Homo sapiens: one gene and its partners. The protein of the gene in region 3 purifies or fractionates together with the protein of the main gene of each other region. This does not show direct contact. Each region holds a gene or a part of one and is shown on either strand. Other genes may lie near its edges.

What was found.
Region 1: the proteins of WDR59 (region 3) and HDLBP purify together in Homo sapiens (affinity purification with mass spectrometry; 2 studies listed by BioGRID and IntAct, with this or other methods). This does not show direct contact.
Region 2: the proteins of WDR59 (region 3) and NPRL3 purify together in Homo sapiens (affinity purification with western blotting; 3 studies listed by BioGRID and IntAct, with this or other methods). This does not show direct contact.
Region 4: the proteins of WDR59 (region 3) and PITHD1 purify together in Homo sapiens (affinity purification with mass spectrometry; 2 studies listed by BioGRID and IntAct, with this or other methods). This does not show direct contact.

Annotation. Positions count from the first base shown.
Region 1 is NC_000002.12:241,305,649-241,312,672, reverse strand, and holds part of HDLBP (vigilin), read left to right. Parts: intron 1-7,024. UniProt on the Homo sapiens protein: Appears to play a role in cell sterol metabolism. It may function to protect cells from over-accumulation of cholesterol.
Region 2 is NC_000016.10:135,657-143,637, forward strand, and holds the start of NPRL3 (GATOR1 complex protein NPRL3), read right to left. Parts: upstream 3,018-7,981; 5' UTR 2,986-3,017; exon of another isoform or gene 2,679-2,985; 5' UTR 2,612-2,678; coding exon 2,494-2,611; intron 1-2,493. UniProt on the Homo sapiens protein: As a component of the GATOR1 complex functions as an inhibitor of the amino acid-sensing branch of the mTORC1 pathway.
Region 3 is NC_000016.10:74,870,862-74,877,147, forward strand, and holds the end of WDR59 (GATOR2 complex protein WDR59), read right to left. Parts: intron 3,584-6,286; coding exon 3,348-3,583; 3' UTR 501-3,347; downstream 1-500. UniProt on the Homo sapiens protein: As a component of the GATOR2 complex, functions as an activator of the amino acid-sensing branch of the mTORC1 signaling pathway. The GATOR2 complex indirectly activates mTORC1 through the inhibition of the GATOR1 subcomplex.
Region 4 is NC_000001.11:23,774,149-23,781,434, reverse strand, and holds the start of PITHD1 (PITH domain-containing protein 1), read right to left. Parts: upstream 3,018-7,286; 5' UTR 2,920-3,017; coding exon 2,722-2,919; intron 1,998-2,721; coding exon 1,954-1,997; intron 1,572-1,953; coding exon 1,494-1,571; intron 1-1,493. UniProt on the Homo sapiens protein: Promotes megakaryocyte differentiation by up-regulating RUNX1 expression.

The DNA of each region.
Region 1 (7,024 bases), on a different chromosome or scaffold from region 3:
AAGCTTTTCCCTCTTTTGGTAAGAAGTAACCAAGTTCTGAAAGAAGCATATCATGCGGCTTTCCCAATTGCCAAGTTATGATGACACAAAGTCCAAAATGCGTGTAAAGGTTTTTGACCAAGTAGAAAAGCAGAGAACCCCAACCAGTATAATGTGTCAGAATGCTTTTTCTCTTCAATTGTAAAAGCACCACAACGTTCAACATCTGGAAACCAAGAAAATAATGAAAAGAACCTTTTTTCATGTGTATAATATTTTAAAACTTGGTTACATGTTATTTTTTGGTATTTCTAAAGTCAGAGACATTTTAGAAGTGAAATCCCTAGTAGGCTATTGTTTTACCAAGCACACTGAAGTTCCTCGAATACCGTTGAAGATGAGCTAGACATTTGTTCTGAGACGTGTCTGGACATCATGTGGTTGTGTTAGTCATCTTGTTGATACTTGTTGTTAATTTGGTAAGAATACATTGACTACATACTCTCCCTTACTACTTTTTATTAGCATTCATATTAATCTTATTTCAAATCAAGGTTACAGCTTCATGTCATTTGTAGAGTCAGATAATCCTAGAAAGGCTTGTAAGAAAGAAGTGCCAACATCCTTCCCCTAATCATGTTTCCTCCCCTGCAGAGTATCTACTTCAGCCTTAGTAGATTTCCTTGATCTTTGCCTCCAACTCTAAAGAGCATATTTGCTTGACGTCTGTATTTGTGTCTCCTACCCCTGTTTCATGTGATGTCTCTTCGCTTGACACTGAGAATAGGTAGGAAGTTCCTAGCTTTCTTTCACCCTCTGCCTTCTCAGTGCAAACGGATCCATGGCTGCCCAAAGTGATATATCCTTAATTTGGTTAGTTCAGTATTGATTGTTTATATTATGACTACATATTGCCATTTACAGCTGGACGAAGTGGTATAATAGGATTGTTTTCACTTTTCTGGATAACTTTTTGTTTTCCTGGGTTATTACAAGTCTTATTTGTTTTTGTTTGCTTGCTGCTTGCTCAGTTTTCTATATTTTGTCACTACAATTCAACCCCAAATTCTGAAGCAATTATCTAAATCTTTCAAGAAATTGTCCGTTTTCTTTTGAAGAAAATTAGTATTCCTATCATTTTATCTTGAATAAATCTCTCCCAGCGCCTCCAATCTGCTGCAGGCTTGTCTGTGCCTGAAATCTTCCTGTAACTCTCCTCACTCCCTCTTGTGTTGGAGCCTCACTTTTCTGGAACCTATGTCATTCTCTTGATTTGACTGTCTCACTTCGATGGAGCACATCCTTCACTAGTTGCCTGAGAAGTGCATGGCAGATGAAGTTTTCAGAATTTGTATGTACGAAAGTGCCTCGTTCTGCTCTTATCCTGAGTAGGAATTTGGACATCATTTTGCTCCGCGGTCTCTAAGTTTCCAGTGTTGTTGAAGTCTTAAGCCGTTCTGATTCTCTTTTATTGATACGTAACATTTTTAGAGCCTTTGTGTGTGACTATGTTTTCCTCCATGAAACCTGAAGGTTTTTGTTTCTTTTTTTTCTTCTTTCTTTCTTTTGTTTTTTTTTGAGACACAGCGTCTTGCTCTGTTGCTCAGGCTGTAGTGCGGTGGCGCTGTCATAGCTCACTGCAGCTGCAATCTCCTGGGCTTGAGTGATGCTCCTGCCTCGGCCTCCCAAGTACCTGGGACTACAGGCATGCACCGCCACACCTGGATAATTTTAAAAACTTTTTGTAGACATGAGCTCTCTATGTTGCCCAGGCTGATCTTGAACTCCTGGCCTCAAGTGATTCTCCTGCCTCAGACTCCCGAAGTGCTGGGAGTGAAGGCTTTGCATCTGGCCTCAGAGGCTTTTCTTTCTGTGAAATTCAGAACTCCCAGAACAGTGATGTCCCTTGGAGACTGTTTTCATCCATCGTCTTGCCTACTCTTTGGTCCTGTTTATTTGCAACTCATGTTCTTCAACGCTGGGCATTTTTTTGATTTATTGCTTTGATTTCTTCCTATTTGCTTTCTCTCTCTCTCTCTAGAATTCTACTCTTGGACTTTCTGGATTGGCACTCATAATTTTCTTAAGGTTTCTTTTTCCCCCCTCTAAAATTTTTGTTTTTGTTTTTATCTTTTAAATTGTAAATTGACAAATTATACTTGTACATATTTAGGGGGTACAAAGTGATGTTACGATTTATGGATACAATAAATAATAAAATCAAGTTAACATAATTCATCACTTCAAATACTTTAAGTTTTTTGTGGTGAAAGCATATGAGATTACTGTCAGCACTTTTGAAATCGACATTATTATTTACTATATTCACCGTGCTGTACAATATATCTCATAAAAGAAAACCACATTCCTCCTGTCTAATTGATGTTTTGTACCCTTTGGTTTTTCATTTTCTTTCTGGAAGTTATTCTCAAGTTTGTCTTCCAGCCCTTCTACCAAGGTTTTTCTCATTTCTAAGAGCTTTTTCTTGTTCCCTCTATTCCTATTTTATAACCTATTTTTTGTTTCATGAATGTGGTATCTCCTGTTAACTGTTGGAAGATATTGATGAGGTTTTATTTTTCCCTGTTTTCTTTTTCCTTAAGTCACTATTGAGGCTGCTCTGGTTTGTTGTGGGTTTTTGGCTTTTGTCAGCCTTTTCTGGGCTATGCAGTGATGTTCTTGTGCCTGCTCGTGAGTCAGAGGGCCTCTGAGCCTGTGTCTGTGGCTGACTGTGGCTTTCACTGCAGAGGCACCTGGCTGGGCCATTTCCTTACAGCACCCTTGTCAGCTTCTTTGGGTTTCTTCAGATTCCCCAGAGAAATATCTTGTAGCCCTTTGCCTGGCTGAGTGGCCAAGTGAGGAGAGAGGCCTGGGAGCACAGCAGTAACCATAAAAGAGCTTACTTCCCTCTTTTCAGAATTGTTTCCCTCCTCTGTAACTGGTGTCCCCAGTCCAAAGATTCTACTTCCCTTTGCAGACAGAAAAGCGATACCTTTTTGCCAGGATAGGAGAGGGACTGTGCAGGTTGGCTCTGTGTGGCTGTGCAGAGTTGTGGGGTGCATCTTAGGGATCTTCGTGCCTTTTAAACCTATCAGCCAACTCTGTTTTTAATTCAGGTCTCCTGGCTTCCAGTCATATTGCCAGTTGGCCTTCCCCATTGCCGATACAGGATTCAGCCCTTTTAGGTCTGTTTCCAGTTTCTAGCCTCCAGTATTTTAATGTTCTTATCTCTATTCTTATTCTTTGCTTTCGTGATTTGTATCTTAAAAAAAGAAAAAATCGTTTACTATCATTTTAGTGGTGCTTCACGAAGTAGTGTAAATGTATTGATCTGACAACGGCTCGTGCTGGAGACACTGTTCCAGGAAGTGGGACACAGTAAGGAAAATGCAAGTGTGTTCTCCTGCACTTTCACGGAGGTCACGTTTTGGTAAGCGGTGTCAGGCAGTCAGCAGACCAGCAGATATGCAGTATGTCCAATGTGGACAAGAAGAAAGGAGGAAAATAAAGTATCGAGGGGAGTGGAGTGGGGGACACAGTGGCAGTTTGGCATAGTGGGGAGGCCTTGCTGATTGAGCGACAGTTGATTCAAACTTGAGATGAGCAAACAAGCCATGGGCAGCGATCTGGGGAAGAGCGTTATAAGAGGAATGGACAGGAGGTGAAAAGCACGGGGGCAGGACTGTGTTGTGCACGTTAGAGGAATGTGGAACACCAGTTATTAGACCAGTGTGGAGCAGGACCAGAGGGTGTAGGAGACGGGCAGGTCAGGGAAGAAGCCGGGGCTCCTAGCAGTCGGATCTTGATGCCTTTGGAGAGCTGGAGCAGAGTGACCCAGTACTGGTGGTGGATCGTGGTGAAGTGACCATGGGCCACACCATTCACGACATTTCTTACTTTTCCTGTCACCTGTAGGAGGCAAGTATTGTTGTTATCACAGGTCGAGGTAGACCCTGAGGCAAAGGCTAGAGTTAGTGGTTTGGCTCCAGTTTGTGCCTTCAGCTACTTCACTGCTTCCCTAACCTGGCCTTGTCAGTCAGCCTCAGTCTACCATCTACCCAGGTCTGCATACCCCGCAAAACAGTATACACTTTGACGCTTTTCTGCAAGCACAATTACCTTTTGGGGGAGCCCTTCTCTTAAAGCAGAGTAGGTTAATGTTTGTGAATGAAACGGAACTTTGGCAGGCTGAGGTGTCTCAGGTCATCAGCTTACGTTGTCTACTGTGTGACTAATTGAGGCAAAAGATGTCCTTTTTAATAGTATTTTCTCATCACTTTTGCCTGGGTGCCCTTTAGGAATGTTATTTTTGGCATACAACTTGAGTTTCACTTAAATTTATAATTCTTTCTGTTCATTCCTACTGCTCTGTTGCCCAGATGTGGATTTTGCTTTGTCTCACAAGCGTTGCTGAAACACTGGTAGAAAGGTGGACGACGGATTGGTTGTGATTAGTTTGATCTTCACAGTACAGAAATTCAAAAGGTCAATAAGCTCAACAAGATTGCTGTCTCACTGATGATCAGAGTTGCCATTAAAATCGTATTTCCCGCACATCAGGCTGGAAAAAAGAATAAACATGATCATTTTAGTTGTCCTCAAAGGAGAAGAGGACAGGTATTCTGTAATCAGGTGTTGTGAGTGTAACTAGTTAAACTCTTTGGGAGGTGGGCAGTTTTACCTTGGCAATATCTATCAATGCATTGCCTGTCATCATATAATTCCATTTCCAATTCAATTTATCCTGTGGGGGTAGAGGCCCAAGTGAGCAGAGGATGTTCTTTCCAGCATTGTTTATAATCGCAAAAAAAAAAAAAAATTAGTTCAAGGGTCCTATCAGTAGGGGATTTATTAAGGTATGTTTACTCCACTCAACATGTAGTTGTTAACAAATGAGGTAAATTTGTATTTGGTACTCGGAAAGATGGCCATGGTGTCTTTTCAAATGAAAATAAGTGTAGCAGATGGTGAAAGAATGCATGTAAGATCCTATTTTTATTTAAATCATGTATTAAAATTATAATTAAAGTATAATTAAAATTACAGTTTTGAAGATACAGTTTAGAATATATTTTTTGGTAAAGCCTCATGGGGGGGTTGCCAGTTTTTACATTGTTTTGTTGAGTTATCTTTTAGAATATTTTTAAAGCTAAAAAATCAAGTTCCTTGGTAGACCATCACTACAGCAAGCCCACTGCAGTATTAATCTATTAATACTGTCAATGTTAATTAAACCATTATTCGTGTAGCCCCTACCCATCCCATTCCAGTCTCTCAGGAGGCTTAGCTGTATCCCAGAGACCCCAGTGCTATGACCGCAGGTCTCTCCTGGGGCAGGAAGAGGTAAGAAGTGGCTGATGTCAAAGTCAACAGTCAGCAAGTGGCGTGAGCAGTCTCGATGAATTCTTTCAAATAAGCGTTTTTCAGATCCACTCTAGGGCTTGCCTTTTCCCTCTGTTGTAGTCTCAGAAGTTCTTGAGGTAGACCTTGTGAGACCTGCAGCAGTACTTGCTGTCTTAGGTACAGAAGGCAGGATATTGATTATTTCTCCCTGACTCAACAAAGAGTTGAGATGTTTATCCAGGTTAGGATGACACTGCCCCCCTGTCCCCCCCGCCCCCCAAAAAAGAAACAAAAATGAAAGGATGGTGTCTTTGACTGTACTGGGAGTCAGGAGACCTCACTTCAATTTTGGGCTTTTCCTCGTTTTTTTTTTTTTTTTGAATAGGTTCAGAGCTACTCCCTGGACCTGTTCTTATCAGCCTTATGACTTGGGGACTTGGGATACTTTTTTTTTTTTTTTTAATTTATTGAGACAGAGTCTCTCCCTGTCACCCAGGCTGGAGTATGACAGCATGATCTCCGCTCACTGCAACTTCCGCCTCCCGGGTTCAAGCAATTCTCCTGCCTCAGCCTCCTGAGTAGCTGGGACTACAGGCATGCACAATAGTAGAGATAGGGTTTTGCCGTGTTGGCCAGGCTGGTCTCGAATTCCTGACCTCAAATGATCTGCCAGCCTCGGCCTCCCAATGAAGTGCTGTGATAATAGGCATGAGCCACTGCTCCCAGCCTGACTTGGGGTACTTTTTGACCTGTAGGATTTCAGCTCCTTTCTTTTAAAAATAAGAAAGCTGAGGCCAGGCGCAGTGGCTCACGCCTGTAGTCCCAGCACTTTGGGAGGCTGAGGCGGGCAGATCACCTGAGGTCAGGAGTTCGAGACTGGCCTGACCAACATGGAGAAGCCCCGTCTCTACTAAAAATACAAAACTAGCCGGGCGTGGTGGCTCATGCCTGTAATCCCAGCTGTGGGAGGCTGAGGCAGGAGAATTGCCTGAACCTGGGAGGCAGAGGTTGCAGTGAGCCGAGATCACGCCATTGCACTCCAGCCAGGGCAACAAGAACAAGACTCCATCTCAAAAAAAAAAAGCTGAATCTCTGAGTGGGTTTTTCATTTTTCATTTTTTTTTTTAAACAGATGCCTCAGAACCTGGGTAACTCAGTTTATCAGAAATTCAGTTTTCAAGTTTGGAAGGATAACACTTGGAGCTGGTAGTCACTCATAAAACATCTGATTTTGTGATCACGTTTAAGAATCCATGAATGATATAAAAATCCTCACCTATTAAAACTTTTTGGCCGGGCGCGGTGACTCACACCTGTCATCCCAGCACTTTGGGAGGCTGAGGTGGGTGGATCACGAGGTCAGGAGATCGAGACCATCCTGGCTAACACGGTGAGACCCCGTCTCTACTAAAAATACAAAAAATTAGTTGAGCATGGTGGCGGATGCCTGTAGTCCCAGCTACTCGGGAGGCTGAGGCAGGAGAATGGCGTGAACCCGGGAGGCGGAACTTTGCAGTGAGCCGAGATCACGCCACTGCACTCCAGCCTGGGCGACAGAGCGAGACTCCATCTCAAAAAAAAAAAAAAAAACAAATAAACAACTTTGTATTCATTGCTTCCTATATACTAGTCATCACGCTATTTATTTCTAGCAGTGGTTATCACCAGGGTGATTTTTGTTACCCAGGGCACATCTGGCAGT
Region 2 (7,981 bases), about 75 Mb from region 3:
GGGAGTTTTTTATTGTTGTTGTTAATAATTTTGGAGAGCAAAACGCCTTTCCATTTAAAACAAAACTCAGAAACCACAAGAGATTAGACTGAAAACTCCACAAAAATCAAAACTCTGGCAAGAACTACACAGAAGCAAACAGGGTGACTATAGCTTTGTCCCAAGACCTATTTTTACATTAAATATATAAAGAACTCCTTCAAATCTATAAGGAAAAAAAATCAAACAACCCAAGAGAACATTAGGCAAAGGTTATAAATAAGTCATTCACTGAAAAGGAAATCCAAATGGCTCCAAAAACAGGAAAATATGCTTTCTATCTCAATTAAAAGGCAAATAAACATTAAAATTACTACCAGATATAATTTTTCACCTACCAGATTAACAAAGATTGAAAAATCTAACCTATTAAAAATAAATATGCTCTTTATCCCTTAGACCCAACCATGCTACTTTGGGGATTTAATATTACAAGAATTCTGCAAAATGACAATACCTGGAAAGAACGTTTGAACTTTTCGTATTAGCAAAAGATTGAAAACAATTTTGCGTCCATCAACCAAAAGGACACGATAAACAAATCACAATATGTTCATCTCATGGAATTCACCGTGGCCGGTAAGAAGGACAAGGGTGCTCGACAGGTTCTGATCTACATCAAAGATGCAGACATGAAGTGAAAACGAAAACAGGGGCAGAACAGTGTGTATGGTGTGACTTTGCTTGTGCTTAGAAAAAAAACACAAGTGCAGGCTGGGCGCGGTGGCTCACGCCTGTAATCCCAGCACTTTGGGAGGCCAAGGCGGGCGGATCACAAGGTCAGGAGTTGGAGACCAGCCTGGCCAACATGGTGAAACCCCATCTCTACTAAAAATAAAAAAAAAAATTAGCTGGGCATGGTGGCGCATGCCTGTAGTCCCAGCTACTCGGGAGGCTGAGGCAGGAGAATTGCTTGACAGGGGGTCGGAGGTTGCGGTGAGCCGAGATCACGCCACTGCACTCCAGCCTGGCAAGACTGCAAGACTCGTCTCAAAAAAAAAAAAAAAGAAAAAAGAAATACATACGCCTGTATTGACACAGAAGGTCCTGGAAAGACACAGAAAAATGGGAACAGTAGTTACCCCTATGATGGAAACTGAGGGCTGGGGGCCAATAGTAGGAAAGAACTTTCTTTTCATAATCTAAACTCCTTTGTATCTTTAAAACTTTCTGCCATATCAACAAGTTTAAAAATAATTTTAAAACAAAATACAAAATAAAAACTGAACAGTCCGGGTGCGGTGGCTCACACCTGTAATCCCAGTACTTTGGGAGGCCGAGGCAGGTAGATCATTTGAGGCCAGGAGTTCGAGATCAGCCTGGCCAACATGGCAAAACCCCATCTCTACTAAAAAAAAAAAAAAAAAAAAAAAAAATTGCAGGGTGTGGTGCACATGCCCTGTAGCCCCAGCTACTTGGGAGGCTGAGGCAGGAGAATCCCTTGAGCCCGGGAGGTGGAGGCTGCAGTGAGCCGAGATCACGCCACTCAACTCCAGCCTGGGCGACAGAGTGAGACTCCGTCTCAAAAAATAAATAAAATAAAAACAAAAACTGAACATTCATGATGATGAAAAATCAAAAGTAACCTACATGCCGTCCACAGGGGAAGGCAGCAGCCTGCAGCCAAGGGTGAGGTTGATCCCTGCTTGCAAAGGCAGACGGAGCTCCAAGGCCGACTATGGGAAAAGGGCGCCACAGAACAATTCGTGCGATGAAAAACCTCACGCGACGTTCCCTTTTCCTGTGGATAGATCTGCATCTATGCACAGGGCAGACAACTCCCAACACGGCCAGGGGTGATCCCTGTGCTTGCTAGAACTGGGGGTGGCAAAGACAACTTCAGATGTTCACGTAACTTTTTTTTTTTTTTTTGAGACGGAGTCTTGCTCTGTTGCCCAGGCTGGAATCCAGTGGCGCGATCTCGGTTCACTGAAACCTCCGCCTCCCGGGTTCAAGCAATTCTCCTGCCTCAGCCTCCCAAGTAGCTAGGATTATGGGCACGCACCACCACGCTCGGCTAATTTGTTTTTTTTTATTTTTATTTTTTCAGTAGAGACAGAGTTTCAACCATGTTGGCCAGGCTGGTCTCGAACTCCTGACCTCAGGTGATCCACCCGCCTCGGCCTCCCAAAGTGCTGGGATTACCGCCACCGGCCTTGTTCGTGTAATTTTGTATTTTCTCATGATGAATACATCCCAAACTCATTTTATTTTATTTTACTTTATTTTTTAAAGGCTGGAGACTGATGAAATGTCAGCAGTAGTTGCTTTGGTGTGGTGAACAATGCATGATTTTAATTTTTTTTTTCCTTTTTCTACTTTTCAAATACTCTACAACGAGCAGATCTCGAATGCCCAGCAAAAGCTAAGCTCCGCGAGGCGGCCCTGGAATGAGGCGACCCCGGAATGAGGCGGCCCCCGCGAGCGCCAGGCCCCCGCCCAGCGCTCACTTACTTGTCTGGGACGCCGGGTGCTCCTGGCTTCTCTGGAAGGGGTACCTGAACAGCAGCTTATTGCCCCTGCTCCCCGAGCTCACCAGAATCACGCTGATGGGGCTGGTGTTGTCCCGCATCCCGCCGTGGGGCCGGGGCCGGGGGCGGAGGGGGCCAGAGGAGGACGGAGCCGGAGGCGGAGGGGGCCTGAGGAGGACGGAGCCGGAGGCGGAGGGGGCCTGAGGAGGACGAGGCGGGGACGCAGGGGGCCTGAGGAGGGCAGGGGTGGAGGCGGAGGGGGCCTGAGGAGGGCAGGGGTGGAGGCGGAGGGGGCCTGAGGAGGGCAGGGGTGGAGGCGGAGGGGGCCTGAGGAGGGCAGGGGTGGAGGCGGAGGGGGCCTGAGTAGGGCAGGGGTGGAGGCGGAGGGGGCCTGAGGAGGGCAGGGGTGGAGGCGGAGGGGGCCTGAGGAGGACAGGGGTGGTGGTGGACGCGGAGCAGCGCCACAGTTACCAACCCACGTGCCACGCTCCGGGCTCGCGAGACTTCGGCGACACCGTCCGGAGGAGGTGCTAAGGCGGCGGCCGGGAGAACGGCGCAGGCGCAGGCGCAGGCGCAGGCAGCGGAATGCGCAGGCGCGGGGCCTTCTGGAAGCCACCGAGTTCCGCGGTGCTGTCTGGAGCCGTACGGTTCGCGTTTGGGGCACAGGGGCCCCTCTTGCTGGTGCGGATGGGAAAGGCGCGGGGTCGAGTCAGCGTCCCTCTCGATGTTGGTTTCTTCGTTTTACAAATAACACTTGGGCGGGGCGCGGTGGCTCACGCCTGTAATCCCAGCATTTTGGGAGGCCGAGGCGGGCGGATCACGAGGTCAGGAGATCGAGACCATCCTAGCTAACATAGTGAAACCCCATCTCTACTAAAAATTAGAAGAAATTATCCGGGCGTGGTGGCAGGCGCCCGTAATCCTAGAGGAGAATCGCTTGAACCCGGGAGGCGGAGGTTGCATTGAGCCAAGATCACGCCATTGCACTCCACCCTGGGCGACAGAGCGACGAGACCCCGTATCAAAAAAAAAAAAAAGAAAGAAAGAAAGAAAAAAGAAAAAAAAAAGGCCGGGCGCGGTGGCTCACGCCTGTAATCCCAGCACTTTGGGAGGCCGAGGCGGGTGAATCACGAGGTCAGGAGTTCGAGACCATCCTGGCCAACATGGTGAAACCCCGTCTCTACAAAAAAAAAAAAAAAAATTAGCCGGGCGTGGTGGCGGGCGCCTGTAATCCCAGCTACTCGGGAGGCTGAGACAGGAAAATCGCTTGAACCCGGGAGGCGGAGCTTGCGGTGAGCCGAGATTGCGCCACTGCACTACAGCCTAGGCGACAGAGCGAGACTCCGTCTCAAAAAAAAAAAAAAAAAAAAAAAACACTTGGAAGCCGACAGGAGATCTTTGAGACCTTGGGCGAGGCAGTGACACTAAAGGCAGGAGCGACTACAGAAGAATAAATTAAACTTCATCAGATTAAAAACTTTACTGCGGCCGGGCGCGGTGGCTCACGCCTGAAATCCCAGCACTTTGGGAGGCCGAGGTGGGCAGATCATGAGATCAGGAGATCTAGACCATCCTGGCCAACATGGTAAAACCCCGTCTCTCTACTAAAAATACAAAAATTAGCTGGGTTTGGCGGCGCCTGCTTCTAATCCCAGCTACTCGGGAGGCTGAGGCAGGAGAATCGCTTGAAGCCGGGAGGCGGAGGTTGCAGTGAGCCGAGATCGTGCCACTGAACTCTGGCCTGGCGACAGAGCGAGACTCCATCTCAAAACAAAACAAAAACTTCGGTGCTTTAAAGGACACCATCAAGAAAATTAAAAGTCCACCCACAGAACGGGAGAAAATATTTGTAAGTTACATATCTGATAAGGGAATTGTATCTAGAATGGAGGAAACTTACAACTCAACAATAAAAAGACAATTGAAAAATGCACAAAGGATATGAATATTTTTCCAGTGCATTATGCAAATGGCCAATAAGCACCAGAAGATGCTCAGCTCAACTGGTAGAGGCTTACGCCTGTGACCCCAGCGCTGAGAGGCCAGGAACTCCAGACCAGCCTGGGCAAAACAGAAATTAAAAATGCTCAACATTATTAGGCATTAGGGAGATGCAAATCAAAACTACAAATAGATGCCACATCACACCTCCTACGATGGCTGTAATCAAAAAGACAAGCGTCAGCAGGGGTGTGGAGAAACGGGAATCTCTCTCCTGCTGGTGGGAATGTAAGAGGCTACACTCGCTATGGAAAACAGGCTGGCAGTTCCTGAAAGGTTAGAGTTAACACAACACTCGGCAAATCCCCCTTTTAGATATATAGCCAAGAGAAATGAAAGCATATGTCCACACAAAAACATGTGTGTTCTTAGTAATATTATTCATAATAGCCCAAAGTGGAAGCAATCCTAGGGTATATCAATTGATGAATGGGTGAATATGGTATAGTTTGTTTAAGGGAATACTATTCAGCCATAAAAAGGAATGAAGTACGGCACATGAATCCATCTTGAAGACACACTAATATATGATTCCATTTATATAAGATGCCCAGAATAGGCAAATCCATAGAGACAGAATGATTAGTGGCTGCCTAGGGCTTCCAGGGGGTCAGGGGAAATATGGAGCGATTCATGGGTTTTTTGAAGGGGAGTGATGAAAATGTTCTAACGTTGACTGTGGTAATGGTTGGACAGCTCTGAGAACGCGAATACACTAAAAGACATGGAAGTGCCGGGCGCAGTGGCTCATGCCTGTAATCCCAGCGCTTTGGGAGGCCAAGGCAGGCGGATCGCGAGGTCAGGAGATCGAGACCATCCTGGCTAAGACAGTGAAACCCCGTGTCTACTAAAAATACAAAAAATTAGCTGGACATGGTGCGGGCGCCTGTAGTCCCAGATACTCAGGAGGCTGAGGCAGGAGAATGGTGTGAACCCGGGAGGCGGAGCTTGCAGTGAGCCAAGATCGCACCATTGCACTCCAGCCTGGGCGACAGAGCGAGACTCCATCTCAAAAACAAAAAAAAGATATGGAAGTGTACACTTGAAGTGGATAAGCTTTATGGTATGCAAATTGGTATGGTATGGTAAATTATATCTCAATGAAGTTGTTTTTTAAAAAATCACCCCACCTACCCTATCCCAGGCTTCCCCAGGAGGTAACTAAAGGTAATGAGCTTCTTTGGCTGCTTCCAGAACTTTCCCAAGCACATCAAATGCATCAGAACCTAACCACTTGACTGAGGGATGAGCATTTTCACTGTTGCAAGTAACCCTCTTGCACCAACACTGACACTAATGTGTATTTTGCAGAACAAATTTGTGGATTGGCCTCACCAGGGTGAAGGGTACGTGCATTTGAAATGGCTCAACAGTACCAACAGGTGCGTTTTCTTGCACAGGGCTGCATAACATTTTTTTTTTTTTTTTGAGACAGAGTCTCGCTCTATCACCCAGGCTGGAGGGCAGTGGCACAATCTCAGTTCACTGCAAGCTCCACCTACCAGGTTCACATCATTCTCCTGCCTCAGCCTCCCAAGTAGCTGGGACTACAGGTGCCCGCCACCACACCAGGCTAATTTTTTTTTTTTTTTTGAGATGGAGTCTTGCTCTGTCGCCCAGGCTGGAGTGCAGTGGCACGATCTCAGCTCACTGCAAGCTCCACCTCCCAGGTTCACACCATTCTCCTGCCTCAGCCTCCCCAGTAGCTGAGACTACAGGCGCCCGCCACCACGTCCGGCTAATTTTTTTGTATTTTTAGTAGAGACGGGGTTTCACCGCGTTAGCCAGGATGGTCTCGATCTCCTGACCTCTTGATCCACCCGCCTCGGCCTCTCAAAGTGCTGGGATTACAGGCGTGAGCCACCGTGCCCGGCCTGCATAACATTTTTTTTTTTCCTGAAATTCCCAGAAAGGAAAATGGTGTCTTGTTCTATGTTGCATTTCTTTGATTGAGAGGGAGAGCTGCATCACTTAATTATTTGCAGAGAATTGCTTTTCTTGTTTTCTTTACAGGTGGTCTGTTCTTGGATGGTCTGGCTGTGTTCTTTCTGAGGAATACATAACCTCTGCTACACATTTTGCAAGGCTTTATCCCCGTTGTCCATGTTTTGATTTTATGTATAATCAAAAGGTTTGTGAGTTCTCCCGCACTTCCCAGGAGTGCCTCTGGGATGGAAATGAGACTGCAGGAGCAGGGCTTGAGGCTGGAGGGGTGAGATGGGACAGATGGGGGTGGGGGAACCCAGGGCAGTGGCCGGTGGTGGTAATGGAGGCCTCCTCACAGGGACCCTCACAGCGACCATGCGAATGGAGCAGGACTGTGACTCAGGTCTCGCTCTTCTGACCTAATCGTGCTGCTGCCCCAATGGGCAGAACCTTGGGGCTCCAGACTGGACATCTCTGGGCTCAAAGGATCCCACTGTTCCCCCGGTTACCCTCTCAGGGTTGGCCTCCTGCCAGTAACCCTGGCACTCATTGTTCATTCTTCTGACTATCGTCAGTCATAATGAGAGCTCGAACTGGTGAAAGTGCAGGGAGCTCACCATGACCCCAGCCCACAGAGGTCCTGGGTGCGTCCCTGCCCTCGAAGCAGCACTCTGGATCCCAGCGCCACCCTCATGTCCATGTTTGCACCTCATTGGCTGTGACAGAAATGAGACATCATTGTCACACGCTGGCCTGAGGGTCAGTGGGCCTTGCTTTGGACCTCAGTTTCCCCACCAGTAACAGGGTTCAGAGCAGATGGTCCCTGAGTGAGTCCCAGCTCTAAGTTCTCCCAGGGTCTCCTGGACAATGAAGCACCAGGGCCAACCTCCATTTGCTACAGGGGACATCCTCAGGCTCTTCTCTGCTAAGACCCCACACCTCCAAGTCTCCTCATTTTACCTTTAAATAGCTGTTTCATGACCTGCTTTTTTGACGGTAAGTAGATTTTTGGAAACTGAAACCCCTGACCCTTCCTCCCAGCCTGGGCCTGCCCTTGGCAGGATAGGAGGCCTTATCGGTCCTGCCACTTGGTCTGGGCCTCAAAGGGCCACCGCCATCTGCAGGAGGGCCGGGTGGGGTTCACAGACGCTATCTGGGACTTGCCTGGACACCTCCACCTTCTCAGCTGAGTGTTGCTGCCCCACCAGGGAGAACCACTCACACACAGTAGTAATAGAAATAATTTAAAATTCATGCTGCAAGTTCCTGAGCGCCCTCCCAACACTGAGGTGGGGGCTAGTCTAATCCCCATCCTAGAGGTGAAAACAGTGAAACTAGGACTCACAAGGCAAATTAGCCTGTTCAGGGTCACCGAGGGTCCACTCTCATGGGAGAGTTTGCAGATGCCCAATCCGGCATTCTGCTGAGTGTCCAGTGGCTTGTAAGTGGCCAGACACCCTTTGAGCTCAGCCTCAGCTGCTCAGGCACAGAACGTGCCTGGAGCTTGGAATTCAGGCCAGAAACCACCAGTGGACACCAGCATT
Region 3 (6,286 bases):
GGACAGGGACAAATAGTCAACCTGGTGGTTGCCCTGAGGCTCGCCCCTTCCCCCATCCTTTCCAGTATCCTGCCTGAGCAACCTTTTGTTTCTGGTGCACAAATACGACTGCTGGGCCTGTTTTCTTGCAAAGGTACTTTCAAACATAGCTTGTATTGCCTTTATTCATTTTTTTTTTTTGAGACGGAGTTTTGCTTTGTCACCCAGGCTGCAGTGCAGTGGCACAATCTCGGCTCACTGCAACCTCCGCCTCCCGGGTTCAAGCGATTCTCCTGCCTCAGCCTCCTGAGTAGCTGGGATTACAGGCAACCGCCACCACACCCGGAAAATTTTTGCATTTTTCGTAAAGACAGGGTTTCGCCATGTTGGCCAGGCTGGTCTTGAACTCCTGACCTCAGGTGATCCACCCACCTCGGCCTCCCAAAGTGCTGGCATTACAGGCGTGAGCCACCCCACTTGGCCTTGTATTGCTCTTAAAAACAAATAAACAAACAAAAGACTCAGGTGCTTGTAATCATCTATTCTGCGGCTGAGAGAATATCGGCCATGGCCCGCAACCAGACAACCAACCTGTTTCCAAACATGAATATTTTAAAATATTAGACTTTTGTTCTGGTAACTTGGAAATTCAAAAGGAATTTCCGTATTGAAGGATGACATTATGTAATATTTTAAACTCGAAATTTCTTCACACCATTAAGGTTTTTCAATTTTGAAAGTCAATGTTCCTCCAACAATAAAACAAGAAAAACATCTCATTCTTGATGGGGACAGATAGGGACAGGTTTTTACACTAACTTGAGCAGTGGGGAACAGGAAAAGATTGCTCTCTGCAAATGGTGTGATTTCACTGAGGAACACAACAGATCCTTTCTCTCTGTGTAAATCAGCCAACCTATTCTGTGATCACCATTACAACAGAATTTGTGTATGCAAATTCCCGGCTGGGCCTTCTCCTGTCATCCTCCCAGCGGCTCCCCCGCCCTGCTCACGCTACTGAGACACTGGCACCTTACCTCAGACCAGAGCCCAGCACTAAACCTCTGGTTCCACTGCACAGGATCTCAGTTCTTTCTTACATCCTGAAGTTTTGTGCCCAGTAACACAGGGGACGAGGTATAAGCTTCATCCAAAACAGTGTTGTGAAAATGTTTTGACTACAACTTTCAGTAAGAAATGAATTTACGCTATGATCCGGTATACACCTGTGCACACATGTGCTGCACACACGTAAACAAGTTACACAAAACATTTTCCTTAGCTATGTATGGTACATTGTGATCATTTTTCTCTTACACCATTTCATTTTTTTAAATGCTGGTTTTCCGCACTAGATCAATGTCACAATCCACTAATGGGTCCTGACCTGGAGTTTGAAACACATGAATATGCAATGCTCTCCCATTATGAGACATGTCCTAGTCCCTAAGCTAATCTACTTGGAACTGTAAAATTCTAAGAAACAGAAATAGATATTTCAGTAGAAATAATAAAAAAGATTTCTTTTCACTGGCACATACAAAATGTGAAGTTGAAAATCATTCTGAAATTAGCCAGGCATGGTGGTGCACACCTGTAGTCCCAGCTACTCGGGAGGCTGAGGTGGGAGGATCACTTGAGCTCAGGTGATAGAGGCTACAGTGAGCTATGATTGCATCACCACTCTCCAGTCTGGGTGACAGAGTGAGACCCTGTCTCTCTCTCTAAAAAAAAAAAAAAAAAATTTAACTTTAAAAAAGAAAATCATTCTGAAGAATTGGTGGACACAGATGTTATAACTACTCAGAACACAGGCAAACACAGGCAGTTTGCGAGGGAGCCTAAAGGAAGAGTGAGGGCACTCACTGGAACCCAGCCCATCTGAACAGAGGCAAGGAAGACTTTGGTTTATTGACAGGGTCTCACTCTGTTGCCCAGGCTGGAGTGCAGCGGTGCAATCAAGGCTCACTGCAGCCTCAACCTCCTGGACTCAAGTGATCCTCCCACCTCGGCCCCTCAAGTAGCTGGGACCACAGGCATGTGCCACCACACCCGGCTATTTTTTTAATTTTTTTTTTCTTTTTTTGAGACAGAGTCTCACTCTTGTCACCCAGGCTGGAGTGCAATGGCATAATCTCAGCTCGCTGCAACCTCTGCTTCCCAAGTTCAAGCGATTCTCCTGTCTCAGCCTCCCCAGTACCTGGGATTACAGGCGCCCGCCACCATGCCCGGCTAATTTTTCTATTTTTAGTAGAGATGGGGTTTCACCATGTTGGCCAGGCTAGTCTCGAACTCCTGACCTCAGGTAATCCTCCCACCTCAGCCTCCCAAAGTGCTGGGATTACAGGCATGAGCCACCGTGCCCGGCCTATTTTTTAAATTTTTTGCAGAGATGGGATCTCCTTATGTTGCCCAGGCTGGTCTCGAACTCCTGAGCTCAGGTGATCCCCTCACTTTTGCCTTCTAAAGTGTGGGATTACAGGCATGAGCCATGGGGCCTGGCCAGGGAGACTTTTCTATCCATGCTGCACGGCAATCTTGTCCTCCTTTTGCTAGAAGAAATAAGACTCTTGGGGCTAGGAAGAACCTTAAATGTCAAATTCCATTTTCTCTTGTCAGATGACAAAAGTAAATCAGCATTTCCTTTAAAAATCGGAGCACTGACTTTGGTCCTATTCAAAATAGCTACCTTCAATTAGAATTAGGGTAAAAAATGATTCACCATAATGTTGTTTAACTTTCTCTCTTTTTTTTTTTTTTCAAATTACTAGAATTTTATTAGCCAAGGGATAGCAGCTGGAGGAGAAATAACAAAAAAATACATCTTAAGAATCCTTAAGTACAGTGCATATTTACAATTTAAGTGTCATATTTTAGAAGGCCACTGTCCATCAGCTCAGTAAATGTACCAGCTTCTAAAGCCATGATGCCATAGGTCCATTTGTTGATGAAATTCCTACCCACTGTCCTCGGGCATCTGACTCTGGTCTCTGCACTGGCATCAAGAGAACGCTGCTCGGTGGTTTAAGGCTAACACCTTACAGGGTAACACTGTAACACTGGCCCTGGAGCCAGGTGCTTTTCTCCATGAAAACTTCCACCTTGGTAGCTCAGCCGACATAGACAACACACAAAGCGCAGCTCTGCACTTCTGTCCTTATCTTCACACAGTGACATCCACACCAGGTGGCCAAACAGAAGAGAAGGCAGAGGCCCACCAAGAGCTGATGCTGCGCAGTCCTTGGGGGATCATCCTCCGGTCTCACTGGGGACGAACCCAGGTTCTGGAGCCTCTCCCCTGACAGACAGCTTGTCACCGGCACTTATGGGTCCTCTGGGATTTCAGACAATACCCAACTTCTGTAGGTTCAGAAAGTGCTTTCAAGCAGGCAGTGGCACCCACACCCGGTGGGACACACCTCCTGGGTCCGAAACCACTCCATCATGTGGCTGGTGTGGCCACCGTGCCCACAGGTCAGGCAGAAATTGGACGATCCCCGCACAGCCACGTGACAGATGGCACACTGGAACGTGAAGCCTTTGCAGATGGCACACTGCGTGCCACGGACCTCACTCCGGCAGTGGCTGCAGTACACGCCGAACTCTGGAAATGGGCAGGGACGGGCAAAACAAGAGGCAGCATGAGTTTAGTTCTGAAAAAGGAAACTGGGGCTTGCCAGGAAGAAGGAAGTCTTCCTCTCAAGACTCTAGCAGATTCTCTTAGACCAGTGGTTTTCATTTTCTGTTTTTTTTATTTTTATTTTTTCTTTTTGAGACAGAGTTTCACTCTTGTCACCCAGGCTCGAGTGCAATGGTGCAATCTTGGCTCACTGCAACCTTCACAGCCCGGATTCAAGTGTCCTGCCTCAGCCTCCCGAGTAGCTGGAATTACAGGCACCTGCCACCACGCCCAGCTAAGTTTGTATTTTTAGTAGAGACGGGGTTTCGCCATGTTGGCCAGGCTGGTCTCGAACTCCTGACCTCAGGTGATCCACCTGCCTTGGCCTCCCAAAGTGCTGGGATTATAGGCGTGAGCCACTGTGCCCAGCCTGTTTTTTTTTGTTTTTTTTACACCAGAACTCCTTCTTCTGAGCCACTGCACCCAGCTGCTGAGTACTGTATTTTCTCAGGGGCTCCGCATGGAAACCCAGTGCCCTACAGCAGGGGGCAGCTGCGTCTGATGCCTCTTCCCACCCCGACGGCTGGCAGGGCCTGGCACGCAGGAGGTGTTGAACAGGTATCAGCTGAAAGAACTGAATGACTCAGCAGTAACACTTCAGCAGAGGGCAGACTGGCTTTACCAACGCCTGCTACTGCCCACTCGCCACTGGCCCAAGTCAGGACACCGGGATGCCGCTCCACCGCCGGGCGGGGACTGGTTCCACTGGGCTACCCTGAGTAAAACCTGCTCTATCTACTCTGCTGGCAATAGTCCCCTCATCACCTGACCCTCCTGCCTCTGCTGGCTTTTGGATGAAAGGCCATTTCTTGCTTAAGTCCTCTGACTGCAGGGGCAGTGGGTGGGGACTGTGTCCCATCGCTGCCTCCAGACTGACCTTTCTGCTGGAGGCCAATGTCATCCAGCTTCACCAGCCTTTCCCCCTTTTCTCTGTGTCATCTGAGGACATTCTGGAGACACACCCCCACTCACTGAAGACTTGTTCTTGGCTCTCAATTTTCTCTCTACCCCAGTTCTTAGATGATCCTGGAGGTCTCCCAAACCTACACCACTAACCCAGTGCCCACCCGGCCATTCAGGTCTTTGCCCTCATCCCTAACCCATCACCACTAACCCTTCAGTCCACCTGCCCCTTTCTAGCTGCAATTTGCCCTTTGGCCAACCTGAATTACATGGACTCACTTTATAATCACTTATTTTGCAAATGCCTTCAATTCCTTTGCCCATCTCCTGCACCACCTGGCAAAACCTCTACCCTGGATGACCCATATCACCTGCCCACTCCATGCCTGCCCACAAGAGGCTGAGCAATCCTGGAGAAAGGCCCATGTTCAAGAAATGCATCTCACTTCATACACGCGATCACCAACGGACACAACACCTAGCCCTGCGCGGAGCCTGTGTTTCCCTTCTGTCCCCGAGATGGTGACTTCGGGCCTCCACCACGTTCTGCAAACTCTTCCCTCATGCCTTTTCTCCCGGCTCCTGCACCTGCCAGCCTCGTCTCTCACTTCCCTTCGTCGTTACACCACGCATCTTCCAATCTCCCACCTCTCCTTCCCTCTTACAACAGAGGGAGGGTCCTTTCTTCTAGCAGAACTGGCTGCTCTGTTGAATGACAACTGGTGGTCAGAAAAAAAAGGCCAATAAAAACTCCTCTGATATGTGGTACCTAAGGGCATATTTTATGATAGTTCCAATTAAGGCAAATCTTGAGACAAATCAGACTGGTTTGAAAATTTTGGTTTAAAAATAGCTATGTCTTCTCCCTCTAAGCATAATTTTTTATATTATGTACAAACTTTGGTTATGTTCTCATGAAAAGCCTAATTAGTTGAAAACTCTCAAATTTTCATTACTGGTTTTATTGGCCAACATTATGAGAATGTAAATATTGTGTGTTCAGGTAAATTTAATTCTAATGTTTAAAAGGGTTTGTTCCTTGGTACTTGAGATAACTGTAAACTTAATTATTCTCCATATCTATCTGGGTAAAATTATTAAAATGTCATCTCACAGTATCATTAATAATTGTGTTTCTCTACAGTGAATCGGATTAAATATAGTTTTCAAGATCCTTATTAACTTTAAGACCCTGAACTAATATTTCATTTCGTTAATTAGCGAATGATCTTTGGGGGGATCTGGACAATTTCTAAGGAGATCTAAATTCACAAAGACAGAAAACATAAAAGCCCCAGGACGCTCTCCCTTGCCTCTGCCCTGTATATACACAATGGAATGGCTCAGCGTATGAACCGATTGAGAAGGATAGGCAGATGCCCGTGGGCCTTGCTGGTGCGTGCTTCCTCTCACCACTTCAGGGCATACAAAGGGATGTGGAATGTGTTCCCAAAAACAGAGCTGGCAAGGTGTCTCACACCTGGCTGCCTTTGGAATATCCCTGACAATCCACTAATCGTGCCGGTCGCTAATGGTTCCAGGTTTTCTCTGGGTCTCTGAGGGAAGAAGAATGACTCTGGGAGGCTGGGGCTACACTAGATACAAATTGCAAAGCAGATACCACTTGCAAGTATGAGATATGAATCTGTATTCAAGATAATTGATGTGTTCTATTAGTTCATCAAGGGAAATGTTCCAGTTTTATTAAAACGATCAATCAACGCG
Region 4 (7,286 bases), on a different chromosome or scaffold from region 3:
CTGGAATGCAGTGGTGCAATCTTGGCTCACTGCAACCTGCACCTCCGCGGTTCAAGTGATTCTCATGCTTCAGCTTCTCCAGTAGCTAGGATTACAGGCCTGTGCCACCGCACCCAGCTAATTTTTGTATTTTTAGTAGAGACAGGGTTTCGCCATGTTGACCAGGATGATCTTGAACTCCTGGCCTCAAGTGATCCGCCCGCCTCGGCCTCCCAAAGTGCTGGGATTTGAATTATTTTTTTCTTTTGAGATGGAGTCTTGCTCTGTCACCCAGACTGGAGTGCAGTGGCACGATCCTGGCTCACTGCAACCTCTGCCACCTGGGTTCAAGCGATTCTCCTGCCTCAGCCTCCCAAGTAGCTGGGATTACAGGCGTGTGCCACCATGCCCGGCTAATTTTTGTATTTTTAGTAGAGACGGGGTTTCAGCATCTTGGTCAGGCTGGTCTTGAACTCCTAACCAGTCTCGGCATCCCAAAGTGCTGGGATTACAGGTGTGAACCACCATGCTCGGCCTTTAGGATTTGAATTTTTTATTTATTTGTTTTTATTATTACTTTTGAGATGGGGTCTCATTCTGTCATCCAGGCTGGAGTGCAGTGGCGAGATCTCGGCTCGCTGCAACCTCCGCCTCCCAGGTTCAAGCAATTCTCCTGCCTCACCCTCCCTAGTAGCTGGGATTACAGGCACGCACCACCAGGCCCAGCTAATTTTTGTTTTTTTAGTAGAGACGGGGTTTTACCAGGTTGGCCAGGCTGGTCTCGAACCTCAGGTGATCCGCCCGCCTCAGCCTCCCAAAGTGCTGGGATTACAAGTGTAAGCCACTGTGCCCAGCCTATATATCATCTTTTATTGGTTTTGTGAGATAAGCTACTGCACCCGGACTGAATTTTTTAAATGTAAAGTTCTTCTTATATGTTTCTCCAGCACTCAGAAAGCAGTTTTCCCCTTCTTTTAGGAAGGCTGTTCTGGAATAAGGTAAGTTGTCAAAAAGGGTACTAGCTCTGGTGGCAAAAGATTCAGTGTTGCAAGAGGTATACACAACTTTGCTAACTAAATGCCACGCAAAGTCAGGTGGAGCAATTCCATGTCAACAAAACACATAAGATCATTACTGTATGAAATAGCAAGGAAAAATGTTGAAGCTAACCCCTAGAATCCATAAAGATCATATGAGATCTGCAGCTAGTTATTAAGAAAACTGCAGAGTCATCAACAAGTGACATTTACACAATGCTCTCTGAATGAATCATGTCATAGTAAGCACTTTGAAATATGAGACACGCTGTTGGGCCTAAAGATGCTTAATCTAAAAAAGTCATTAATTCAGGAAGAAATATATGTATTCCAATGCAGAATGAGAACAGGACCAAGATATTTTAAAAGGGGAAATATTAAACCCGGTAAGAAGAAAATGATACTATTCTGGAATAAAATGTTACCAGAAAAAGAGAATTAGGAGCTCCTTTGAGGGCCTAAGCCTTTGCCACTTACAGTCTCATCTCAGAGGGGTGTGAGTCATCATCCTCTCCCATTATAATGATGCCTTTGAGCTTGACATTGCCCGTAAATCTGCCAGAATGCAAAAGAGAAGGTTGTCAAACCTGAGTTTGAATACCTGTTTAGTTGTGTGACCCTGGGCAAGACCCTTCCCCTGTATGGGCTTCAGTTTACTCATCTGTCAACTTGTACTAGATAATTTCTAAGATCCTGTCTACCTCTAGCATTCTACAATTCTAAGAAATCTACCTCAATTTCTCAGTTATTGTTCTACAAATACATCTGTTTCCAGTCTGCACCAAGAAAGCTATGATGCTTTCCTCCTCAAACCCACCAAAGTAATTTATCCCATTTCTAGAAGCAAATGTGTGCTCTTGACACCAGTGAATGAATCCATCTGAGGCAACTGGGTACAGCCTATTTAGCCTGAGGTAGGCACCAAGGAGATACTTACGGAATATTAAACAGAAGCTCTTCATCTGCATCACTTTCAACAAACTGGAGGGGATGGGGAGGGGGGAGGAGAAAGCAACAAATATTTGCTGAGAGCCTACAATTTCAGGCATCTCCCACCCTGCTCTACAACTGGGGTGCAATGGGAAGAGTCACTCTCCCTTGGTTTTCCAAGACTTATTAACTTGAAGCTAACCAGTCTTATCCAGTGTCATAACAGCCACAGGCCACCCAACTGGAAGGTTCTTAACAAAAAGCCCATGAATGAATTTCCAGGGTCGAAGAGCCTTCTGAAGTGTGAACTGAAAGGCAGGTGTTTATGTGCATTTTTCTGAGAAGAAGGTCCACTGCTTTCAAACAGATAGCAAAGGGGCCTGCGACCCCACAATGTAAAGAACATTTGCTCTATATGGGAACCACCTTTCATCTCCCTAGGCTCATCTTCACCAGGTAATATGATGAGGCAGCCATTAGCACCAATGGTCCAACGGCCCTCACGACCATCCTCTCTAGCCCACACAGCCCTGGAATAGAGCGTTAGGCTGTGTAGCTTGACAAAACTGTCCCCGTTCCCTCTAGGCCTCAGTTTCCCTATATGCAAAATGGGGAGACAACGCTGCTCGCCTCCCAAAGAGCTGGCAGGAGACAGGCACGGAAAAGCGCTTGGCAACCAGGCTGTCGTTATTCTTAACATCAGAAATGAGTAGACCGACGGCCCGAGGCCCCACACGCACCCTGCCCCGCCCGCCCCAAGCCCCAGGCGGCCCACCTTGGAGCGGTCGGTCCGCTCCTCCCACGGCTTGAAGACGCCGCGGCCGCTGCCCTCGCGGCTCTCGTTAAGGCATTGCAGCCGCTCCAGGTCGATGCGCAGGTACAGGCCGTAGGCCAGGCCGCGCTGCTCGGGCGGCTCCTCCCGTTCGGCGGCGCAGCGGCAGCCACCCCCGCCGTGGCTGTGACCGTGCGACATGGCAACGCCGCCACCTGCGCGTCCTCTCGGCCCCACCGCCGCGCTCGCTCGGCTCGGCTCGCCTCAGACCAGCTCCGCGCCGTTCAGCTCCGGCAACTAAGCGCGCCGCGCCTGCCGCGTCGTAAAAAGCGCCGCTGCGCGGCGCATGCGCGTGGGGAGAAGGCGGGGGGGCGGGGGGGGTGGGGTCGAGCGGAACTGACGTAGGACGCGCGCCTCCCAGGTGCCAGAGTTCGTATATGACTCCAGTCCTGGCGCTGGATGCTGCTGCTGTTCCAGCTTCCTAGGTGTGGAAACTGAAGGACCAAGAGATTAAACAGGTGTGCTGAGTAAACTCACAGGCTGAGATTCGAATTATCCTCCCCCGACGAGGATGGAGCCTTCGCTGTCTTCCTTGATCGCCACGTTTCTTTGCGAGCCGATGAAGGAAAGCGTGAGGAATGATAAGGCCCTGGAGACTGGAGAACGCGAGCTTATCGCTGTCTCACATGCGCACGGCTTAGACGTTGAGAGCTCACAGGCCCACTTGCATAACCACTTTCTTGATAGCGGGGTTACAGCTTGAGAGCATGGGGCTTTGTGCACGGCCAGACCTAAAGACTACTCCTGGGTCTGCTACTGGCCATTGTGACACCTTAAGTCATTTCCCCTATTCTGAGACTCCGTTTCCCCGTCTGTAAGGTGGAAAGAATAGTATCTGTTTCATAGGATCACAGTGAGTATTAAATGAAATAATGCAATTAAAGAACTCAGCAGGCCGGGCGCGGTGGCTCACGCCTGTAATCCCAGCACTTTGGGAGGCCGAGGCGGGCGGATCACGAGGTCAAAAGATCGAGACCATCCTAGCCAACATGATGAAACCCCGTCTCTACTAAAAATACAAAAATTAGCTAGGCGTGGTGGCGCGAGCCTGTAGTCCCAGCTACTCGGGAGGCTGAAGCAGGAGAATCGCTTGAACCCGGGAGGCAGAGGTTGCAGTGAGCCGACATCGCGCCACTGCACTCCAGCCTGGCGACAGAGCAAGACTCTGTCTCAAAAAGAAAAAAAAAGAAAAAACTCAGCAAATGGCTGACACATGATGGGCATTCAGTAGCCGATGGTTATTACGGTCAAATCCAACCACAGCAACTTACTAGCTGCGTGGCCTTGGGCAAGTGACTTGATCTTCTGAGACTCAGTTTACCCCCTGTGAAGTGAAGGGATTGGACTAGATGATCTCTGCGTTTCCTCCCCCATGTGATATTTCAAAGTACTTTTTTTCGAACAGCTGGTTGTGGCCTGTCAATAGGTTTTAAAATCCGTTTATAGAGAATTGTGATCAACATTTAAAAAAAAAATAGAATACAAAAAAAAAAAAACCCAGAATGTATCACACATTTCAAGTCTCAATTGATGAAACTTTTGTTTCAGTTTTGAGTTTGTATTCAGACACAATATGATGTGTTTTTCATATTGTGGGTTGAGATCAAAATAATTAAAAGTCACTGTTTAGAGGTGAAATAATCTTGTTTTCAGGATAGAATGTTTTCCTACTCCCTGGTGGGGAAAAGACAGGATACAGAAAGAGAGTTATGGGATACCCTGGCTACCCTCTTCCCTTCACATCTGGCTCTGGAGTGCTCAGTGGGGCTGGTGAAGTATAGACCAAAATATCCATTTTTTCAAGTTCCATTCAGAAATATTTTCTGGGCCACATGCAGTGCCTCATGCCTGTAATCTCAGCACTTTTGGGAGGCCAAGGTGGGAGGATCACTTGAGCCCAGGAGTTTGAGACTAGCCTGGGCAACATAGGGAGACCCCATCTTTACAAAAATAATTAAAAATATTAGCCCAGCATGGTGGCTCATGCCTGTGGTCCCAGCTATTTGGGAGGCTGAAGTGGAAGGATCTCCTGAGCCTGGGAGGGTGAGGCTGTAGTGAGCTGTAATCATACCACTGCACTCCAACCTGGGTGTCAGAGCAAGACTGTCTCAAAAAAATAAAAACAAGAAAAATATTTTGATGTCCTATTTTAGTTACTTGTGCAATAAGCAAGCTTGGTTCTGTTTCAAAATAGCTCAGTGCCGTGAATTATTCCTGCTTTTAGGTCACAGTTTCAGGTAAGGGACCTGGAATGTGGCAAACAGTAAATGTTTACTTGACTGATATACTTGGTAGCCTTTCTTTGGTAAGAGTGTCCTTTTGAAGAACCAACTCAGGCCTTACCCCGGAGATCTACTCATTTTGGCTTTTTCCTGTTGCCTTCATTAATGATTTATTTGAGCACTGTGTGCTAAGCACATTATGTAGTTCATCTCAATTAATTGTCACATGAACTTTAAGAGCTAGGTACAGCCAGGTGTGGTGGCTCACACCTGTAACACTTTGGGAGGCCGAGGCGGGTAGATCACTTGAGGTCAGGAGTTTGAGACCAGCCTGGCCAGCATGGTGAAACCCCGTCTCTACTAAAAATAGAAAAATTAGCCAGGCATCGTAGCGTGTGCCTGTAATCCCAGCTACTCGGGAGGCTGAGGCAGGAGAATCGCTTGAACCCAGGAGGCAGAGGTTGCAGTGAGCCGAGATTGTGCCACTGCACTCCAGCCTGAGCGACAGAGCGAGACTCCATCTCAAAAAAAAAAAAAAGAGAGCTAGGTGCTATTACCTACTGTTATCTCCAATTTGAAGATGAGGAAAACTGAGGCTGAAAGAGGCAAACTAACTTGTCTGAGACTAGGTAAAGTTAGGAGGTAACCAGGCTTTGAACACATCCTGTAGTGTTCTTGTAACACATCAGTAGTTTCCTGGTTAGGGTGGGGAGGTTGAGGCGGGAGGTGCACACAAAGTAAATATGCTGTATCAATTAGCTTATGCTGTGTAACAGATTACCCTAAAACTTTGATAGCTTTAAACAACAAACATTGATTAATTCGCATGATCCTGTGGATTAGCTTTTCTGGGCCAGTTCAGCTTGGGCTGGAAAGTTTGGGATGGTCTCACTCTCGTCTGCTTGATGCTGGCTGTTAGCTGGGATGATGGGACCACGTGTCTCCAGCAGACAAGCCTAGCTAAATTACATGGTGATAATTGCAGAGTTCCCAGGAGCAAGAGAGGGCAAGACTCAATTGCACAAGCACTTTTTTTTTTTTTTTTTTTTTTGAGATGGAGTCTTGCTCTGTCACCTAAGCTGGAGTGCAGTGGCACAATCTCCGCTCACTGCAACCTCCCCCTCCCGGGTTCAAGCGATTCTCCTGCCTCAGCCTTCCGAGTAGCTGGGATTACAGGCGCCTGCCACCACGCCTGGCTAATTTTTGTATTTTTAGTAGAGATGGGGTTTCACCATGTTGGGCAGGCTGGTCTCAAACTTCTGACCTCAGGTGATCTGCCCACCTCGGCCTCCCAAAGTGCTAGGATTACAGGCATGAGCCACTGCGCCCTGCCAGCACAAGCACTTTTTAAGCCTTACATCTATAATCTTTCTATAATGACCCATCAGCCAAATCCAAATTCTAGAGTGGAGAGCTAGACTGTAGACTTCACCTCCTGATTGGAAGAACTGCAAAATACTGTGGCTCCTCCCCTCCCAGTAGGTCTGTATTAGTTGTCTTTTGTTGTGTAACAAATTATTCCCAAACTTAATGGCTTAAAACTGTAGCAGGACAAGCTGCAGATAAAACCTGTCAGACACCAGGTTAAAGAAGGAAGAGACTTTATTCGGCCAGGAGCGTTGGCAGAGTTGTGTCTCAAGAACCAAGCTCTCCAAAGAAAAAGTTCCTGGCCCTTTTAAGGGCTTATAACTCTAAGGGGGTCCACGTGAAAGGGTTGTGATAGATTGAGCAAGTGATCTATAGGTAACACATGTGGTTAGGGTGGGGGCGTTAATCTTTAACCTCAGGCCTGGTAAGTGGCATCAGTTGGTCTTGCCACTGACTTCATTCCTGTTGTTTTTCAGCTTTTACTTCTTCCTTCTCTTCAGAGACAGTAAGAGAAATGGCCTCTCTCCTCAAAACAACAATTAACATTTATCATCTCACAGTTTCTGTGAGTTAGGAATTTGAGAGCGTCCTAGCTGGGTGGTTCTGGCTTGGGGTCTCTCATGAGCCTGAAATCATATGAAGGCTTGGCCAGGGCTGGAGAAGCCCCGGCTGGCAAGTTTGTGCAGGCTCTTGGCAGGAGGCCCCAGTTCCTTAACACATGGACCTCTCAATAGTACTGTTTGAGTGTCCTCATGATACAGCAGCTGGTTTTCAGCAGAACAAGTGATCTAAGGGCAAGGTAGAAACCACCAATGTCTTTTATGACCTAGCCACAGAAGTCCCATATTGTCAATTTTGCAACATCCCATGGTTTCACAGGTCAGCCATATTCAGTGTGTGCGGGAACTTCATAAGAGT